Regions from separate parts of the Homo sapiens genome. Here regions 2 and 3 are each linked to region 1. The links come from fine-mapping of genetic effects on gene expression. A gene starts in region 1. Each other region holds a variant in brackets. All regions are shown on one strand. Distances are from middle to middle. Region 1 holds the start of ARRB1 (arrestin beta 1). Region 2 overlaps ARRB1 (arrestin beta 1). Region 3 has its middle 5.0 kb from the start of RPS3.

Evidence for each region. PIP is the estimated chance that this variant, and not a neighbour inherited with it, causes the effect. A credible set is the group of variants that fine-mapping cannot tell apart.
Region 2: its variant is the best candidate, but not a certain one, in a credible set for the expression of ARRB1 in whole blood (INTERVAL, PIP 0.74).
Region 3: its variant is the best candidate, but not a certain one, in a credible set for the expression of ARRB1 in whole blood (INTERVAL, PIP 0.55).

The regions. Positions count from the first base shown.
Region 1 is chr11:75,349,496-75,353,693 of GRCh38, forward strand. ARRB1 (arrestin beta 1) reads right to left here and starts at 2,166. Exons shown (of 16, transcript NM_004041.5): 1 at 2,093-2,166. The coding sequence starts at 2,112. RefSeq lists enhancers at 1,307-1,356, 2,419-3,374 and a silencer at 1,907-2,186.
Region 2 is chr11:75,264,283-75,268,480 of GRCh38, forward strand. It overlaps ARRB1 (arrestin beta 1), which reads right to left. Exons shown (of 16, transcript NM_004041.5): 15 at 3,370-3,421; 16 at 1-1,992. The coding sequence ends at 1,881. Among named protein-coding and RNA genes, the nearest start is that of TPBGL, 26 kb to the left of the region's middle. RefSeq lists enhancers at 1,401-1,902, 1,903-2,402 and a silencer at 1,723-1,812. The variant C/T (reference allele first, on the strand shown) is at 1,741.
Region 3 is chr11:75,392,402-75,396,599 of GRCh38, forward strand. No RefSeq gene overlaps it. Among named protein-coding and RNA genes, the nearest start is that of RPS3, 5.0 kb to the right of the region's middle. The variant C/A (reference allele first, on the strand shown) is at 1,852.

The DNA of each region.
Region 1 (4,198 bases):
CCTGACAATCATGTCAGCAGGACAACAATGACACTTATCCCCCAAGTCACAGAGAGGTACAGAGAGACCCAAGAGAGGCTGAGTCACTCCGATCACAAGGCAGCCTAGGAAGGACAATGGAGTGGAGAATGGCTCCGACTCCCTGCTATGCCCTGCAGGAAGAAAAGCCTGACCTCATGGGTCAAGAGGGTCTTAATTTCAGGGCAGATGGATGTGGCTGGGGAAGGAGTCACATACCTTCCTACTGAGGACAGAGGCCTAGGTCACAGTGCTGGCCAGCCAGCTGCAATGGGGACTAGCCATCAAGGTTCATGCAGACACAGCATGATCTTCTGCCGTCCCCCCCAAAGCCTGGGCCTCCAGCACAGAGCAGGGCTCCCCTCCCTGGCCCATGAGGGGCCTGGCAGTGCCCTAGGGCCATCCACAGAGACATGACCAAGTGGACTCCAGCCTCCGCCCTGCCTCTGGCCCCTTTTGACCTTAGGCAAATCACATGGCCTCTAGCCCTCTGGTTCCTCTGCTAGAAAACAGGAAGAGGAAAATTAACCTCCTGGAAGAGCTGTCAGGAGGATGGCTGGAAAGTAGTTTCTAAACATTAAGAGCCTGAGTTGCCTCTGAGCCTGTTTCCTCCTCTAGAAAATGGAAATAATCTCTGCAAGCCCTTTCTCACACTGTGGAGAGAGAGTCTTAGATGGCAGTGGGTGAGAAATAGCTTTGTCAGTGGCCCTGAAAGGTGGTGCCCACCGGGGTGGTGTCTCTCTAGTCTGTTAGCTCCTTCAGGGGAGGAGTGGGCCTTGCGCATCTTTGATCCCCCACACTACGCCTAGTATACAGCAAGAGCTTAATAATAAATGGAAACGAGGAGAGGGGAGGGGAGGAAAGGAAGGAGGCAGAAGTCGGACACAAGAATAGAAGAGAAAGACAGAAAACAATGAGAAAGAGGGGGAGCCCAGGGAGAGGCTGCTGTGCCCACTTAGGGGGTGGGGAGGGCAACGGGGAAAATAGGGTGGCAACGCTGAGCCCCTGACCAGCGCTGGTCCTGTCTGAAGGGCTGCCCCCAGGGGCTGTCCTGCTCCAGCCCCCTCCTCCTTTTGTCCCAGTTTCCCCTTTCAGAGGCAGAGACTGTTTCTGAGTATTTCAGGACAGGTTCTAGGAGAACGGGAGGGGTTCTCCCAGCCCTAGGTTCAAAACAGCCCCTGGCCAGCCACTCCTCAGGAGGTCAGAGGGAAAGGGAACAGAGTAGATGGATGGGATCTATTTGGATGAAATGCGATCTGTTTTCCCCAGGCTGGGGGTGGCGGGGGGCGCTCTACCCTGTGTGATGTGTGTGTTTCCACTTCTGGCCATGTGGGGCCTGAAGCGTGTGTGTCAGCGGGCCTTGGGCTAGCAGCTCGTGCCTGTGGGGTGCCAGTCTTTGAGGGCATCAGTCTGATTGTGTCTGTGGGGGTCAGTGTTGGTGTGGCCTTGCGCTCCGCTGTGTTGGTGAGACATGCCAGCACAAGTGTGTGTGCCAGTGAGGGTGATGTGTGTGCCAGCAAGAGTGTTTGCTACAGCGAGTGCAGGTGACAGTGTGCGTATCAGTGTATGCCCACACGTGTGTGCCAGCACGAGGGTGTGCTAGAATTGGTGTGTGTTGGATTGTGAGCTGTGCATGCCAACAAGGCTGTCAGCAAGAATGTGTTGACCGAGGCGTGTATGACGGCGTGCCACTGCGTGTGATGAGCGTGTGCTAGCGGTTGCCAGTGTGTGCGCCAGCATGCCTGTGCCACGGGTTAGTGTGCCCGTGCGTGTATTGTGTGTCAACCTGCCCCCGTGCGTCTCTGCGGCTGCCGGCCAATGCTGGGTGTCAGCGAGCTGTGTGTCCGGGCCAGGAGCTGCGGCCCACATGGGGCGGCCCGGCCCTCGCCCTTTGGGTCCCCCCGCCCACGGCCCTGCCGGGGAGACCACACAGGAGACCTCGGGTGGAGGAGAGCTGGTACTAGATCCCGCGGTGGCCGCGAACGCAGAACCAGGACGCAATCGGAGCCCCCGCCCGTGTCCTCGCCGAGGTCGCCCCCACGCGCCCCCCGCCGGGCGGCCGCCCTGCACTCACCGGGTCCCTTTGTCGCCCATGGTCCGCGACGGTCGCAGGGAGGTCCGCGGCGTCAGCGCCCAGGCTGGAAAATCCCCAGCCAGCAGGAGGAGCGCGGGCCAGCCCGCTCCCGGCTCCCTGCTCCGCCTCCTCCGCTCTCCCGGCCGCCGCCGCCGCCCCCGCCCCCGGTCCCCGCCCGCCGCCCGCCGCGTCGAGCAGCGCAGCGCCCGGGCCGCGGCCAGGGGCGTGGAACCGCGCGGGGTGTGTGCGTGTGTGTATGTGTGTGTGTGTGCGCGTCTGCGTGTGCGCGCGCCGCCCAGCGAGGCAGGGCAGCGCGGCGGGACGCGTCAGGGCCCCAAGGTCGGCGTTTGTGGTGGGGGAGGGGGTCCACCCGCGTGCGAGTCCGTGTGAGAGTGTGTGTGTGTGTGTGTGGTGGTGGTGGTGGTGGTGTGGTGTATGTGAGGGCGCACGGCTGTGTGCGGGCCCTATTAGGGAGTGTATTGGTGTGGATGGAGGAGTGTGCACGTCTTTGTGCAGTTGTGCGTGTGTGCGCACGGCCGTGGGTGCGAGCGCGCTCTCCCGCGCATGCCGGGGCAGCCTTTGTGTGTGCGGGTGGTTGGAAGCCGAGGGTCTGGCGACCCCGAGGCCGCGCTCCCTGCGGCCCCTCGCTTAGCTGGAGACCCCGGGATGCCTGGCAAGGCCTTCGCCCTGTGCTCCACCCTTCCCCATTCCACCCACCCCACCCCCTTCTACTGGAGAGATAACACCCAGCCACACAACAGGGACAGGAAGAAGGGGCGGAGGGGGCAGTAGACGGCCTTGACACTGGGGAACTGAGCGGAGACCCGCGGCCAGCAGGGGCTGCAGGAGGCCGCCCAGGAAGAGGAAGCTGTGAGAAGTGAGAAGAGGCGATAAAGGAAGAGGGCAGAGCTGGCCCGCTGCTGTGACCGGGTAGCACCGTGGAAAGCGCCCATGCCCAGCTCCATGGCTCGCTGTGGGTGACCCTGTGCACTAAGCTTCTGAGAACCCATGTCCGGACCTGTAAAGTGAGGATACACTAATATCAGCCTGCAGAATTGTTAATAGGTTGAAAGAACTCGCTTGTGTTTGCTGGCCTCCCCTGAGCGCCTGCATACAGTAGGTGCCCAGTAGATGTTAGCCCACTTCTCTGCAGGCTTCTTGATGTCCTGTGAAATCTTGGCTGGGACCCTGCTTTGTCTGAGGTGCCTTCCTGCTTTGCAGGTAGTGGGAAACGGTAAGGTCTTTACCACACCCTCACTACTGAGATTTGGCTAATTATCCCGGATAGGTCCCTGATATCTAAGTATTAAGGGGAAAGTAAGCTATCATTTACTCTGATGCTGTTGTGAGTATGTAAACATCTCCTGTAATTATGCTCAGAAGCAGTTACCTATACTGTTTATATGCAGTATAATTACTATAATTATGTCCAGATTTGGCAGAGGGGCAGGGGGAGGCTGATGGGTAGGCAGGGTGGCCCACCTCTGGGCAATGTTAGGAGCTAGAGAGTATGGATGAAAGCCCAGAACCCTCCTCCCAGTCTTGGCCTCTGGGTTTCACCCTCTACAGAGGAAGAAGAGGAAGCCACCTGTTGTTTCTGCAGGGCTCAGAGATCTGGAAAGGAGCAGACTAGAATCTTCTTTGATGACAGGAGATCCCTAACCAGGATGGTGAAGCCAGGTCCTGCCACTCTCCACATCAGTTTCCCCACCTGTAAAACAGGTTTGACCAAACCATAAGATCTCCAATGGATCTCTCCATGCTGATGCCCAAAACATCTAAATATATTTATTTATTTTATTTATTTTTGAGACGAAGTCTTGCTCTGCCACCCAGGCTGGAGTACAATGGAATGATCTTGGCTCACTGCAACCTCTGCCTCCTGGGTTCAAGAAATTCTGCCACCTCAGCCTCCCCAGTAGCTGGAATTACAGCCACTGCCATCATGCCCAGCTAATTTTTGTATTTTTGTAGAGATAGGGATTCACCATGTTGGCCAGGCTGGTCTCGAACTCCTGACCTTAGGTGATCCACCCACCTTGGCCTCCCAAAGTGCTGGGATTACAGGCGTGAGCCACTGCTCCCGGTCGATTTAATTTACTTTAA
Region 2 (4,198 bases), 85 kb before region 1:
GGATTGAGATGCCACTTGTATAAGATTTTTTGTCTCCCTTTTCAGACAAGTATGGGAGAGAGATGGAAGGGAGCAGAAACTGAGGAGAGAGCCCTTGTCCTGCTAATCAATATATTTGCCTGGGTAAACCTCAGGGTGTCTGTGCCCACAGGGGGCTGTGAGGTACTGCAAGCCCTATCATAAGCCCCTCAGCCAAGCCTCAGCAAAGATATGCTCTGTCCCTCCTTGGGCAACTCATGCTACCTATGGCCACAGCCTGACATCAATCCCTTCCCAGTCTTGGGCACAGGGTGGGGTTGAGGGCAGTTGGTGCTCCATAGGGCCCTGCCACCTCTGAGGTCCAATAAATCCCCTCTGGAGGCAGAGAGACCAGTCAGCAGCTCTGGCTCTACCCACCAGACCAGGAGCTCTAATGTTCACAAATTCTTGGTGGCCAGAGCTAGGAAGGCCCATTGTGATCATCTGGTCAAACTCCTTGCTTTCCCAAGTGAGAAACTGAGGCCCAGAGTGGGGAAGGAACTTGCCCAAAGTCACACAGTAAGTTATTCTCAAAGGCCAGGCAAAGAGGATAACTCCTAACACTTTCTATCTCATCTCCCATCTGGCTTCTTGCCCCAGGAACTGCCCCAGGTCTCAATCAACCCAACACCAGCTAATGCGTACTGGGTACCCATGACACTGGGAGCTATTGGAGGTCATCAACTCACCAAGAAAAGAAGGGGCTTATTTGCTACCCAGCAGCCTCCTTCCCTTCGGGTGAGGATATCTCAGTGGATGCTGCCACCTTCTGAGATAGGACCCCCTTTGACTGTGGCATGGTGGCCTCAGGCACTCTCTCCCAGTCCATAGGGTCAGTCCAGCCCTGGAGAATGGCAGGGGGAAGCAGGAGGATACTAGTGGCCTCGGCCCCCGCTGGACACCCATCCTCACTTCCTGCATGACCATGTGAAGTCCACAAGGAAGGGACATAAGGCAGACTCTCCTCTCCCCGCCCCCTGCCCCCATCTCTGAGCGCCCCCCTTCGGGAACCCTCCTCAGGAGCTTCAGCTCACTCTGCTGGGGGCTGGTGCTTGCTGAAGACCCCCTCCCTCCCTCCCTCTGCTTTTCTCTCTGTGCATATCTCTAGACAGGGCCATGCACTTGAAATACAAGGTAGCTAAGATGTCACAGCCTGACAGTACTGAAATATACTTGGGTGAGTCCACACAGCTTGCCTCAGTCTAGGTAACTGCTGGTAAGAAAGTCAGTCCAGTTGCTTTTCTCTACTCCTGGGGTCTACGAACTTTCACCAACATCACTATCAGACACAGAGGGACATCAGGTGGGGAGGAGGGTGAAGGCAGAAGGTCTTTGGTGGGTCAGAACTTCAAAAAGGCATTGAGAATCTGTCCACAGTTCTGCCCCTCCCAGCCAGAAGGAGGTGGCCTTCAACGCGGTCATCTTTTAGCTGCCAGAACTTTGTTAACCACCTGGGACCGTGGACATCTTCTCTCGTGTCTTGAGCCCTCATCCCCACCCCTCCAAGCCCTCATGCCCACCACACCGTGTCCCACATTCCCCATCCTCCCCTGTCTGCTCCCCATCTCAAGTCCAATTCCAAGGCCAGAGCCCTGGCAGCTTTTCTGGGAGACAGCATGAAAAGGAGGGGAGTGGAGATGGCAGAGATGGGGTGGAGCCAGTGCGCTGTGGTCCTGTTGGCGTGGTGATGTGGGGCCAATCCTGAGGCCAGAGGTTCATCAC[C/T]GTGATCTGGAAGCCCACGGGGCCCCCTGGTAGAAACTGGAAGAACAAAGGGGAAAAGAAACCAGAACAGGAAGAAGACGAGTAAGCATCCGAGTGCACGAGAGTGGAGCCGGAGCCACGTGGAGGCAGGGCCGGCCCGTCTATCTGTTGTTGAGCTGTGGAGAGCCGGTACCATCCTCCTCTTCCTCCTTGTCATCCTTCATGCCTTTCAGTCTCTGGCGAGCAAAGTCCTCAAATACAATGTCGTCATCACTGGTGGGAGAGACAAGGAAAATGTGGTGTGTTTGCAGGGGCAGGGAGAGTAGGCTTATCCAGAGGCCCGGCCAGATGTGACTCAGAGTATGGCTCTGGGGCCGGGGAGAACCACCCTCTCTGAGGTCTCTGGCCTCTGGGGCTGACCATGAGCAGAAAGGCCTGTCTGGCTGGCACATGTGGATGCCACCTGTGGCAGTGGGGACAGTCACATCAGGACTCGGGCCAGTCATGAAAGGGGCAGAGAGGGGCATGAATTTGACTCTTGTGCCTGAGGGCTAGAAAAGTAACCTGGTTCTTTAGGAGGTGGGGGGAGCAGTGTGGCTCTGTAGCCAGAGGAAGGACTTATTCCCACTGTGAGAGGCCAGGCCACCAGTAGTTTCACAGCATGTTCTGAATCCCCCAAGAATAGGCCCGGCAAACCCCACCCCACCACCCAGAAAACTACCCTTAGGAAGCATTCCCGTTTCTGGACAGCAAGGAGTAGTTTGGCTTAATGAAAGAGAAGACCATGAAGAACCTTTCTCCCAGAAGTGTCAGCTCAGATTCTACCTTGGGGGATCCCAGACAGAAGAAGGCTGGGGTAGGAGGATGTGAATCTAAATAGGGGGGCAGAGGACCTGTTCGTGAGGAAAGGGGAGGCTTGAGTGGGGTTTCAGGACTAGACTGCCTTTAAGAACAGCGAGTTCCCTTCTACCATGAAACATGTCCATTTAGGACCATGCAGGTGTCCACCTGGGTCCCCTGCCCAACAGGGTTCAGCCAGTGCATGGGGCATCCTCATGGGGTGACCTGAGACCCCCACACCCCAGATTTCTCCTGGGGGACAAGGGAAGATTGGCTTTGGAGCTGGAGCAAGAAAGCCACTTGGACCTGGAGGCGGTCCGCGCAGTCGGCCCAGGTCCTCCCCCTCTGGCCACTGTCCGGTGACTCGATGGCCTTTGACTGCAGGGAAATCCACATCGGTTGGTCCTCAGGAGTCAGAAGCAACAAGATCCCCAGTCCCCTGCCCACCCCACAGCCTGATTCCACTGGTTGGCGTGGGCAGGACAGGAGAGCCGAGCCCAGGGCCATGGACCAGCCCTGTGTGAGCCGAGCAGGCGCTGTGGATGGACGAACGGACTGACGGACGGACGTGCAAGGACGAGGGAGGAAGACAGACCCCACCAAGGCAGGAGGAAGAGGAACAGGCACGGAGGGTCCTTCAAGTCACATGCAGGCAAGCGGGTTGCTGAAGAGGCGAGCAGAGGTGGCTCTCAGCAGACGGGGTTAGACCAGCGGCTCCTCAGGAGTTAATAAGCATATATGCAAATGACCCCCTCCACCCCGCCCACCCGCGGCCCACCCCCGGATGTCTGCAGGCAGGGTTCAGCTTACTTTGTGTCAAGTTCTATGAGATTGGTATCTACTGGCGTCTCGTTCTCTGGAACTAAACACAGGGTGGGTGGGCAGGGTGTCCAGGGATTAGTGAGTGGATGAGCACGGGGCGAGTAAGCACAGGCCCCCACCCTGGGACAACCAGACTAACATGAGAAGGGCAAAGGATAAAGGGGAATGGAGATGGGGGAGGACTCATTCCTGGTACTGAAACACCCCAAATCATCTGAAAGGCAGGGAGGATGGCACCAGGAGGGCCCCGGATCCCCACTGCAGCCCCAGAAGAACAGAAAATCCTCTAAACTTCTGTTTCTTTTGACAGGTCTCCAACATGAATTACATTAATTCCTTGCATGCATGCCATTCACCAATTCTAAGACAATCTTTTTTATATTTTCCTTCACATTTTAACATCTCCAAATTTGGAGTGTGTCTTACCGTCGATGGCACTGCACAGTTTAACCATGGAAGTTTTTTCCTAATTGTACCTACTATTATGTTGTCTCTCTCCACTGAAAGTCTCAGATTCAATGAAATATGACCAATCTGCTATCACTTGAAAAACAGGCCAGGCCAGGCATGGTAGCTCATGCCTGTAATCCCAGCACTTTGGGAGGTTGAGGCGGGAAGATCACCTGAGGTCAGGAGTTTGAGACCAGCCTGGCCAACATGGTGAAACCCCGTCTCTACTAAAAATACAAAAATCAGCCAGGTGTGGCGGCAGCCGCCTGTAATCTCAGCTACTCGGGAGGCTGAGGCAGGAGAATCTCTTGAGCCTGGGAGGCGGAGGTTGCAGTGAGCTAAGATCACGTCACTGCACTCCAGCCTG
Region 3 (4,198 bases), 43 kb after region 1:
CCTGCAACGTCTCTGAGGTATACCTGTAATTCTAAATGTTCTAGTAGCAAAAAGCAAAAAGAAATAGATGAACTTAATTGTAATAACATTTTATTTAACCCTATATATAAAGTGTTATTGTTTCAACATGTAATCAATATAAAATATTAATGAGACATTATATTCCTTTTTGTATTTCCAAATCTGGTGTGTATTTTATGCTTACAGCATTTTTCCATCCAGACTAGCCATTTTTATGTGCTCAAAAGCCCCATGAGGTCAGTGCCTATGGTATAAGATAATACAAATGTATAGTCTGAATAAGAGACTCTGAGTTTTTTTTTTTTTTTTTTTTTTCCTGAGACGGAGTCTTGCTCTGTCGCCCAGGCTGTAGTGCAGTGGCGCCATCTCGGCTCACTGCAACCTCCGCCTCCCAGGTTCAAGCAATTCTCCTGCCTCAGCCTCCCGAGTAGCTGAGATTACAGGTGTGTGCCACCACACTCGGCTAATTTTGTATTTTTAGTAGAGATGGGGTTTCACCATGTTGGCCAGGCTGGCCTTGAACTCCTGACCTCTGGTGATCCATCCACCTCAGCCTCCCAAAGTGCTGGGATTACAGGCGTGAGCCACAGCTCCTGGCCTGAGACTCTGAGTTTTCTATCATAGATCACATTGTAGATGAAAAGTTTTTTTTTTAAAAAAAAGAGACTCTGAGTTTTCAGAAGAAAGGATTATGCCATTTTGTGTTGTAGGAAAAGACATCCCCATTGTTTCACAAGTGGTCGCATGATCAGAAATCCATATATGTTCGTGTCTCCTTACATTTTTTTTCTTTTTTCTTTGTTTTCATTTCACAAGTAACACATGCATATATATATTTTTTTCTTTTTTGTTTTTTGAGACAGAGTCTCGCTCTGTCACCCAGGCTGGAGTGCAGAGGCACGATCTGGGCTCACTGCAACCTCCACCTCCCAGGTTCAAGCCATCCTCCCACCTCAGCCTCCTGAGTAGCTAGGACTACAGACCCACACGCCCAGCTAATTTTTGTATCTTTTTGTAGAGATGGAGTTTTGCCCAGGCCCGTCTCGAACTCCTGAGTTCAAGCAATCTGCCCACCTCAGCCTCCCCAAGTGCAGGGATTAAAGGCGTGAGCCACTGCACCCAGCCAATATATTTTAAGAAAAGTCAAGCCATAAATTGCTCCTTAACCTCCCCTAATACTGCTGCATTCCCCAGAGGTAACCTTAGTTCTCTATCAGTTGAGTATAAATCCTTCCATACATTTACATGCATAGATATGTTTTATTATATTTTACATAAATATTATAGAGTAATATTTTTCTGCATCTTGCTTTTTTTCACATAGCAGAATTACTTAATGCTTTTTCCATGCAAGTACACAGATCTATTTCTTTTTTTTTAGTGATTACATAATATTCCATAACCATTTTCCTACTTCAGGGCTTTTTGGCTGTTTATAATTTATTTTTTCACTATTACTAATAATGTTCTAATAAGCATTCTTGTAATCACCCCATGTACATTGTGTGAGTCTTTTTCTGCAGTAGATAAAAAGAAATGTATTTTCTGGGCCAAAGGGAATCTACATCTTCAATTTTAGTGGATACTGCCAAGCTGCCCTCCAAAAAGGAAGTACCAATTCACACCTCACCTACAGAGTGAGGATGTTTGTTTTATCACACTCTTCCATACACTGAATCTTATTTTTATTTTAAGTAGGGGTATTCAGAAGTGTGAGTCTTTTAAGCAATGATACAAAAGCAATAAAAAAAAAGATCTGTTCAAATTTATTTGACAGCATTCTTCTATGAATATGCAGACTCAATTTGAGACCCAGAGTGAGTCACTGAT[C/A]AATTTTAAACAAAACACTGAGAATCCAATGACATCATTGTGTCTCTCTGGGGGTGTCAGACTCTAAAGTAAGTGACAACTGAATATAGTCGCTATTGCCCTAGAACAGCAATCCCTTAACAGGTGCCATAATGGAGACCCATGTACCCTCTCTCTGTGAACAGTAGAAGCTCCTCTGTCTTCCCACCTCCCTCTGAGCCACTCTGGAGCAGTGAGGCAGGCACACCCACCCCTATTCCCACGACTTCAATTCTCTTTCTTTGCCAAGCTCATCGAGTGGGATTCAGGTAAGTTTTTCTCTCTTTCTTTCCTTTTTTTTTTTTTCCTGAGACAGAGTCTCACTCTGTTGCCCAGGCTGGAGTGCAGTGGCGCAATCATGGCTCACTGCAAACTCCACCTCCTGCGCTCAAATGAGTCTCGTGCCTCAGCCTCCTGAGTAGCTGGGACTATAGGCCTGCCATCATGCCTGACTAATTTTTGTATTTTTAGTAGAGACGGGGGTCTCACCATGTTGGCCAGGCTGGTCTCAAACTCCTGGCCTCAAGTGATCTGCCTGCCTTGGCCTCCCGAAGTGCTGGGATTACAGGCGTGAGCCACCATGCCCAGCCTTTGGATTCAGGTAAATTCAATGCTTTCTATGAGGTTCTACTGTTTTCAAACTGTTCCCAGAAACTGTGGGCTGTATTCATTTGACCAGGGCAAATCTCACCTTTGGTTTTCAGGAATTTCAGGAAAGTACCTTTGTGACGCTCAGAGGGCCCCTGCATGGCCCAAGTGTGGCCACAAAGCCATATTTTTCTCAGACACACACAGTCCTCTCTTCACAATCCCAGGGAGAATTCTGTGACTCTGTGGGCTGAACAGATAAAGCCTTGCTTTCATTTTGGATACCCAGGGAGAGATTAAGGCACTCTCACTGTCCTTGCTCTTAATTACAACTCAGTGTATCACAACTACTATTGTTTTCATAGCATTATTTTGAGTACTATATTGCCTTTTTCTTATAATAGTCTTAGACAAAGGAAGGGCAGTATGATCAAGACAAAGGCTTCCTTCATGGACTTTCTCCTGGGACTAGGGGGTGACACTCAGGCAGGCAGCCTCCTGGCATCCCTGGGGAAGGGCAGCAGATGAGCTACCACATCATCAAGAAGCATTTACCTCAGAGAACTTGCCACTGTCTGATCCTCAGCTTTGAGCCTCCAGAATTTGGTTTTCTGAACATCCCAAATAAGATACAGCATGTGCAGGCAAATTCATATTAGTTCCACGCTACGAGTAACTATCTAAAAACCAGAATCCATGCATTGATTTGTTTGCTCTTCAAACTTTGACTGACACTGGGCCTGAGCCTGTCCAGATCCAAGCTCTGAATAGAATGAATAAAATAGGCTCAGTCCAGGCTCTTACAGAACCTACAGTCTACTGAGAGAAACACATAGACCATTCCAACCCAGTGAGCTGAGTGTCACAGGAGGGGATGCACAGAACGCTATCAAAGCAATGAGAGGAGGCAAAACCCTGAAGAAGTGGTGTATTTAACATGCGGGCAGCAGGGAAGGGAAAGAGTCAGTATGAAGTGAGATTACCATGGGCAACGGGGAGAATGATTGCTAGAGCAAGGTCTTAAGGAAACAGAACTAAACTGGGACCAGAACACAATGGGAAGGCTGGCCTTGGGAAGAAAGAGGGTCTCTTTCCTAAGCCAGGAAGGAAGGAGGAAAGGATAGCCAGGGACACATGGGATTATAGGATGGGCGGGAGGCAGTTTCTGGTTGTGCAATCTATTAGGGGGGCAAGGGACTAGGAGGGAGGTTGACTATTGAAAGTGAGGAGGAGGTTCTGGGGTTCTAGCTTTGTCAAAGATTATAATAGGGACCGTGGGAGAATGTGAGGCATATGGGAATGAAAAATAGAAGCGATTCACTGAGAGGGTCTAGGAGCCTGCTGTGATTTTACTCTGATCCCAGCACGCAAGGCCAGGTGCTCTCCCTCAGCGCCCACATCTCTAGTGAATCCATAGGCAGGTGGATTTACCAGGCTCATGTTTTCAGCAACCTGGCCCCACTCTATAGACAGACCAAGGAGTTGGATGAAGAGGCACATGAAGAGCAGAGAGAGATAACAGATGGATGGGGGGTGGGGGGGGGAAGAAAAACAACTTATTCCTAGGTTCCTCATCTTGGTAAGGATTGTCGCCAAGCATTCACAACTGAAGTCAGAAACTAGGGCTTCTGCTGGGCACAGTGCTTCACGCCTGTAATCCCAGCACTTTGGGAGGCCGAGGTGGGTGGATCATCTGAGGTCAGGAGTTCGAGACCAGCCTGGCCAACATGGTGAGACCCTG